Linked DNA regions of Homo sapiens. The protein of the gene in region 1 interacts with the protein of each later gene in a biochemical or structural test. Each region holds a gene or a part of one and is shown in the gene's direction. Other genes may lie near its edges.

Evidence for each region. The genes of interacting proteins can lie anywhere in the genome.
Region 2: the proteins of FGFR2 (region 1) and FGF4 interact in a biophysical measurement, tested with the Homo sapiens proteins (one study listed by IntAct).

The regions. Positions count from the first base shown.
Region 1 is NC_000010.11:121,588,445-121,591,944, reverse strand, and holds part of FGFR2 (fibroblast growth factor receptor 2 isoform 1 precursor), read left to right. Parts: intron 1-3,500. UniProt on the Homo sapiens protein: Tyrosine-protein kinase that acts as a cell-surface receptor for fibroblast growth factors and plays an essential role in the regulation of cell proliferation, differentiation, migration and apoptosis, and in the regulation of embryonic development.
Region 2 is NC_000011.10:69,772,542-69,776,542, reverse strand, and holds the start of FGF4 (fibroblast growth factor 4 precursor), read left to right. Parts: upstream 1-1,201; 5' UTR 1,202-1,458; coding exon 1,459-1,798; intron 1,799-2,415; coding exon 2,416-2,519; intron 2,520-3,057; coding exon 3,058-3,234; 3' UTR 3,235-4,001. UniProt on the Homo sapiens protein: Plays an important role in the regulation of embryonic development, cell proliferation, and cell differentiation. Required for normal limb and cardiac valve development during embryogenesis.

The DNA.
Region 1 (3,500 bases):
GGGACAGGTGAGGCAGAGGGAAGAAATCGTGGAAAGGGACGAAGTTCCCCGAGTGAGTCTTTGTGTAAGAATTTACATCCAACAATGTGGGTATTGTTGGAAGCAGGCCTGCTCAACCTGGGATCTGTGGATGCACTTATGGATCAGGAAGGAGGTCGATGAAGTTCTGGAAATTTTAGGTAATATTTTGTTAATGTCCTTTTGTGCATTTTTATGGGTTTATAGTTTCCATGAGCTATGAGTTCATTTGCATCCAGAATTATGAGATGGAAAAGAAAAGATGTCTTAGAGGAAGGTGCAAAACCTGGCAAAGAAGAGGCTTTGGAAAAGTATACAAGTCCCAGGCCTCAGTTTCCCTTTCTGTCGTCTGAGGGCTTAAGAAGATGATCTTTAGGGTCTCTTCATTAATAGTCATTGAATATTAATGTCCTCAGAAGTCTTCTGACTCTTCCACCAAAAGGTTGTTAGGAGATTTCCATTTGACCTGGACATAAAGAGCAATTAGCACAGGGGCTGGCATCCAGTAAGCACCGGGTGCATGGCCTTGTCGCCGTTGTCGCCAGGGAGCTGGGAACATGGGTCTTCCCAGTCCCGTGGGCTGGCTGTGCCAGGTGCCACAATGTCAAAAAACATCTAGGCTTTTGGAGACAGTTGAGAAGAAAGTTGTTTTTGGATGGAGGAGGCCCTTGGTGTTTCCAGGAAGCTGTGTTTGCTTTCTGTAGGGTCCCCACTTCCCCTCATCTGTTAGTCTAATACTGGCCACTGATTTGAGCCCTAAGACCAGTTCTTCTGTTGCAGGAGTTCGCTTTGGTGTCAGAGGTGATTAGGAAGGTCATTGAATTATAGATGAGAAAGGAGTTTTTAACAGCTGAAAATGGGCTCAGGTTTAGGCTCTGTGCTGGTGAATTGGAAGAGAGAGAGAGAGAGAGAGAGTGTGCGTGTGTGTGTGTGTGTGCGCGAGTGCGCGTGCGTGCGTGCGTGCCTGTGCCCCTGTCCATCAGTTCTCCATGATTAGAACTACTATAGCTTTGGTTAGCAGTAAGTTCCACCTTGACCTTCTGTGCACCAAGGTCTTATCTTGTAAGACTTTTTGGTTTGCTAATTTATTTGGAAGCTCAGTTTAGATAATGTCTATTGGATAGGAGAAAAATGTGACTGAGAAGTTCCAGGAAGAAGCCTGGGCCCTAACACTAGAGGGTCCTTTTCTTTTGGCCCCTCAGGGAAAGGTTATGTTTAGTCATCTTGGCTTTGTGCAATATCGTATCATATCATATGTCATATCATATATCATATATATCATTTGTCTTCTGGACACGTTCTGAAATAGTAGCAGTGGGGTTGGGCCCACTCAATTGACTTAAGAAAATAATCTCTAGAAGATTTTAGTTTTTAATATTTCAGATTAAATATGAGTTTTCCAGTTGGTCATTCATTGTTAATTTCCTTTTGGTCATTCATTGTTATAGGGCACCAGCAGAGGAGTGAAAACATGGTTATTGACTCGAAGGGGGGCAGTCCTCAATGCCAAGTACTATTCTGTTGATTAACATTATAAATATTTGAAGTCTAGTCAAGCTTGATTACCCTGAGAGGGGGCAACTCTTACTTTCAAGTTCTTCCTGACATTGTCACCTACTCTGGTTAATTAAGTCATTGTTGACATTAATGGCATCTTTGTTTACACCAACCCAGTAGGAGCTAAAATGAAAGGGCTTTTCAACCCTACACCCTTAATTACTTTCCCACCCTCCACAGAGTGTGACTCTGAAAAGTAACAACCTGAAAAAAAATGTAGTTTGTGTAGCAATTTTTTGTCAATCTTCTGAGAGGTGATGCTCTCCTGGACCAACGTGAGTTGGTCCAGAGTTCAGTAGCAGAAACGTCGAGGACAGGATCTACACAGAGACCTCCCTAAGTCAGATTTTTCCAGTATGGTTTAAGTCCTTTGTTAGAAGTATTGTAAATGCCATAATATTAACCATACGCATTTAATTGCAAGTTAAAAGAAAGGAAGAAAGAATATATCCGCATACCAAGAGTGAATGATTTAAAATAATCTTCTGTTTCGTATTATCTGCATCTTTGTTTTTCAATATGAGTGTTAATATTTAAGAGTTGACTGTAACTTGATAGTTAGCTTTGGAACAAGGACTTATTCTTGGTCAATTAAACCAAATACAGGCTTACGCAGTTAAATACACAATGAAGTACACATTCTTTATTAGTATATAAAGTGTTTCACAATTCATAGACCAAGAGCCATGTTTAATATTACTTATAGAGCAGAAATCTGGCAAGCCCAGAGAACTGGTACTTGTATCATTTTATACTGGCTCTCTCTGATTCAAATTTGGGGTATATGTGTGTGTTTCTGTTTTGTCTGTTTATTTCAACCAGTTAAAAGACAGAGCACTTACTATGCCAATGGCCCCGCATCAAGCCATAAGTAAAGACTTTATTCCTTTCAAGTCTTTCTGACCCAGTTGAGGGTGAGAATTCACAAAACCACAGCAATCCAATATGAGATGTTTTTAATATCAGACTTAACAAATAATTACATGGCTATGAAATAACTGGGGTCGTGTTTAAACTGGAAGTGTTTTGTTTAATGTTCGTAGTTTCAATAAAATGTATCCACTAGTCTTCCAGTTTGCAGACTGTTGTTTAGGTGTTTGTTTAGCCAGGGTAATTGTTAAAAACTCCCTCTAATCTAGCTTACCCTTACATTTCCATGGAAGCGAATTTTAGTCATTAAAGGAAAACATGGGAAATTGATTTTTGGGTGCCTGGCTGTTAAGCTAGGTAGGAAATATAGCTGGTGTGCTACTCTCCACTGTACTGGTCCGATTCTCGCCAGGGGGACATCTCTGTAGGCAGTTCAGAAATTATTTTTTGGAAGTTTTTTAGGCTATTCCACAGATAATTCTGATCCAGTAGGTTTTATGCAACTGTGCAAAATGCTTATGGTCTCTATTTTTTTTTCCTTGAGAGATGATTTTAGCCTTTGGTTTTTTGTTTGTTTTTGTTTTTTGAGACAGAGTCTTGATCTGCCACCCAGGCTGGAGTACAATGGTGCAATTGTACCCTCACTGCATTGTCAAACGTGGCTCACTGTACCCTCGGACTCCTGGGCTGAAGGGGTCCTCCAACCTCCTGAGTAGCTGGGACTACAGGCCTGGATAATTTTTAAAAATATTTCGTAGATATGGGGTTTCGCCATGTTGCTCAGGCTGGTCTCCAACTCCTGGCAGCCTTGGCCTCCCAAAGTGCTGGGATTACAAGTGTGAGCCACCACACCTGTCCTAGCCTTAAGTTTTGCATTTTTTTCCATCTTTTTGCTGTATCCCATATGATTTAGAGATTTTTGCTGTATCCCATGAGATTTAGAGATGGCTCTACTTTTTTTAGCTTTCCTAGCATTGAAATGCTTGGTGTTGCTAATCATACCCCATCTTTACCACACCATCTTCCTCCCTGACTTGCCTTCTTAGTGTAGTTTG
Region 2 (4,001 bases), on another chromosome or scaffold:
AGCCCTCAAGCCTCCCAGGTCCCCTCCAGGGGCACGAATAAGCCCCAGCAGGGTTCTGAAGGGGTCCCAGGAATCTCCCTGTGGGGATGCGGTGGAGGTGGAGGAGGCTGCGGTGGCCTGGGGACATCTCTGGTCACAGGTGCTGGTGGTATGAGAGATGGGGTAGGCACCAAGCCCCCTGCAGCTGTGGCTAGGCGGGCCTGCAGGAAGGGCCAGGCAGGCTCCTCAGGGACCACAAAGAACAGGGGTTTTCACACCTAGGTGGGCCTGCATCTAGCTAGGACAGTCCCCATCAGGCCATAATGGGCACAGTGGGAGGTAGAACCATGAGTGAGAGAGGGGAGGCTTCCAGAGGCCTGGCCTGGGTCCCTGCTAGATTGAGGGCTCTGGCTATGGTACATGGATATTTCTGCTGTGGAATCAAAGGAGCAGGGGATGCTGAATATCCCCTCTGGCCCTATGCCCTGCTACCTGTCCTTTCACGGAAGGGTGTGTGTGTAGGGGGTGCAGGACCAGGCCTCCCTGGGTGCATCTCTGCCACCTTGCCCTTTGGCTCAGGTGGACCTCCACCAGGTATTCAGAACTCCAGCCCAGAAACGCGCCAAGCCTGTGGGGCCAAGACCTAGGGGGTGGGGGTGGCCTCCCTCCCGCCTGTAGCCAAAGGGTCCTCCCTTGCCCAGCCAGGCCCCGGTGTCGCTTACTGCTCTTATCCACCCCTCCTTCCCAGGCCGGTCCTCAAGGCCCCAGCAAAGGAACCAAGTTCCCGTGAGCCTCCGAAAGGCGAAGGGCAGGCAGCAGCCGCTGGCTTCTGCGCCCACTAGGAGCTTCGGATGCCCGAGTTAGGGCTGCGCCAAGGCGGCCGGAGCAGAGAGGGAGACGGGGACGGGGACAGGCAGGGACAAAGTGCAAGAGGCAAAACTGGCTGAAAAGCAGAAGTGTAGGAGCCGCCAAGGGGCGGGACGAACAGGTCCGTGGGCCGGGCGGAGCCAAGGGTGGGGGCCGGGGTCCCTCCAGGTGGCACTCGCGGCGCTAGTCCCCAGCCTCCTCCCTTCCCCCGGCCCTGATTGGCAGGCGGCCTGCGACCAGCCGCGAACGCCACAGCGCCCCGGGCGCCCAGGAGAACGCGAACGGCCCCCCGCGGGAGCGGGCGAGTAGGAGGGGGCGCCGGGCTATATATATAGCGGCTCGGCCTCGGGCGGGCCTGGCGCTCAGGGAGGCGCGCACTGCTCCTCAGAGTCCCAGCTCCAGCCGCGCGCTTTCCGCCCGGCTCGCCGCTCCATGCAGCCGGGGTAGAGCCCGGCGCCCGGGGGCCCCGTCGCTTGCCTCCCGCACCTCCTCGGTTGCGCACTCCTGCCCGAGGTCGGCCGTGCGCTCCCGCGGGACGCCACAGGCGCAGCTCTGCCCCCCAGCTTCCCGGGCGCACTGACCGCCTGACCGACGCACGGCCCTCGGGCCGGGATGTCGGGGCCCGGGACGGCCGCGGTAGCGCTGCTCCCGGCGGTCCTGCTGGCCTTGCTGGCGCCCTGGGCGGGCCGAGGGGGCGCCGCCGCACCCACTGCACCCAACGGCACGCTGGAGGCCGAGCTGGAGCGCCGCTGGGAGAGCCTGGTGGCGCTCTCGTTGGCGCGCCTGCCGGTGGCAGCGCAGCCCAAGGAGGCGGCCGTCCAGAGCGGCGCCGGCGACTACCTGCTGGGCATCAAGCGGCTGCGGCGGCTCTACTGCAACGTGGGCATCGGCTTCCACCTCCAGGCGCTCCCCGACGGCCGCATCGGCGGCGCGCACGCGGACACCCGCGACAGTGAGTGGCGCGGCCAGGCGCGAAGGGGCGGGGGCGGGGGGCAACGGCCGCCGGGCCAACCCGCTCAGTCACACTCTGAGACCCTCGGCGGGCACCTGCTCGGGGGCCCCGGGAACCGGGGCGGACTCGGGCTCCGGTCCCTTCTGACGCGGGGCTGGGGACGCAGACACTCTTGGCTCCGGCAGCCCAGCGCAACCCCTGAGGTCGGGCGCCGCCTCCCGCCTTCAGAAACTCGGGCTCCGAGCGCCGAATTCCAGCGCCTTCGCCCGTGGGCACAGGGCGCGCGGTGCAGCCACAGGGGGCCCGAGACACGCGCCCCGGCCTGGCCCAGGCTGGGGAACCGCTGGGGTCGGGCTCGCGTCTGAAGGTCCGGGACTGGGTGCGGCCGCCGGGGGTCCCCTACACAGGCAAGCTAATCTGAGCTAGCGCAGGCTTGGGCTCCGGAGGCCCTAGAGGGCAGCTTGGGCTCTGGAGGCCCTTGGGGGCGGCTGCGCCGGGAACCCTGGCCCTTTATCCCCAACCCCACCCCAGAAATAGGGTCCCCGGAGGCGAACAAGCCGAGGGGCGGAGTGGGCCAGGGATCACCTGCCCCGCAATGACCTGCGCCCCGCCCCCAGGCCTGCTGGAGCTCTCGCCCGTGGAGCGGGGCGTGGTGAGCATCTTCGGCGTGGCCAGCCGGTTCTTCGTGGCCATGAGCAGCAAGGGCAAGCTCTATGGCTCGGTGAGTACCGCAGGGGTCTGGCTAGGCACCTAGTTGGGAACAGCGGACATGGCTAGCAGGCTCGTGGCTTCTCCAGCCCCACCTGTGCCTGGGTCTTGGAGGGGTGGCAGGGTCACCAGGTCACGGGACCGGCAGGCCTCCCCAGACAAAGGAAGCAGCCCCAAGGCAGGAACAATGAGGTTCCTGCCATCCCTGAGTGGGCCCCTCCCAGACCGAGGAAAGGGCGCTATTGAGAGCCCTTCCCTTCTCTAGTCCAGAGGGGTAGGTCTCAGTGTTGGAACTGCGGGCTTGAGGCTGGACACGGAGGGAATGAATTCTCTGGCTGCTAGGTGCAGGGCAGGTGGTGAGAGCACCAGCTGTTGTGGGCTGGCCATGTCCCCTTCTCACCCTGTGTGGGTCTTGACACCTTAACTGCTCAGCAGAGACATCTCAGCCCAGGGTGGGGGGTGGGACAGAAGGGGGTTCTGACCCCTGGCTTCAGGCTGGGTACCTTGCCCAAGAGGTGCCCCAGCCCTGACACTGCCCTGCTTTGCTGCAGCCCTTCTTCACCGATGAGTGCACGTTCAAGGAGATTCTCCTTCCCAACAACTACAACGCCTACGAGTCCTACAAGTACCCCGGCATGTTCATCGCCCTGAGCAAGAATGGGAAGACCAAGAAGGGGAACCGAGTGTCGCCCACCATGAAGGTCACCCACTTCCTCCCCAGGCTGTGACCCTCCAGAGGACCCTTGCCTCAGCCTCGGGAAGCCCCTGGGAGGGCAGTGCCGAGGGTCACCTTGGTGCACTTTCTTCGGATGAAGAGTTTAATGCAAGAGTAGGTGTAAGATATTTAAATTAATTATTTAAATGTGTATATATTGCCACCAAATTATTTATAGTTCTGCGGGTGTGTTTTTTAATTTTCTGGGGGGAAAAAAAGACAAAACAAAAAACCAACTCTGACTTTTCTGGTGCAACAGTGGAGAATCTTACCATTGGATTTCTTTAACTTGTCAAAAGTTGTCACGAGTGTGCTGCTATTCTGTGTTTTAAAAAAAGGTGACATTGGATTCCGATGTCATCCCCTGTAGTATGGCGTGGAGCATCTCTGTCTGGAAAGGCCCGCCTGAGGCTTGGGCAGCCAGTTCAGGGAGCTCCCAGGCTTGGCTCTCGGCTAGCATCCTCAGAGGCCCACTCCCTTTGTGCCCTGTTGCTATTAATCGGGACATATCGGTTTACTTCGGGTACAGAAAGTGCGGTGTTGAAGTCCTCGCTGCCACTCTGTTTTTAGATCTGCCAAGACTGACCTTTGAACTTTCCTGTAGTCAATCTTCCTCGATCTACCAGATGGGAGAGACCCTTGGACAACTTTATAAACTCCTGTTTGCCTTTTTTGGATCAGCGACAGCCCCCATCGCTGTGACTATTGGGGAAAAGACGAAGCTCTTTCATAAATTCCATGGAGAGGAATCAATATCCCACTGGAAGGCTAGAAATGGAC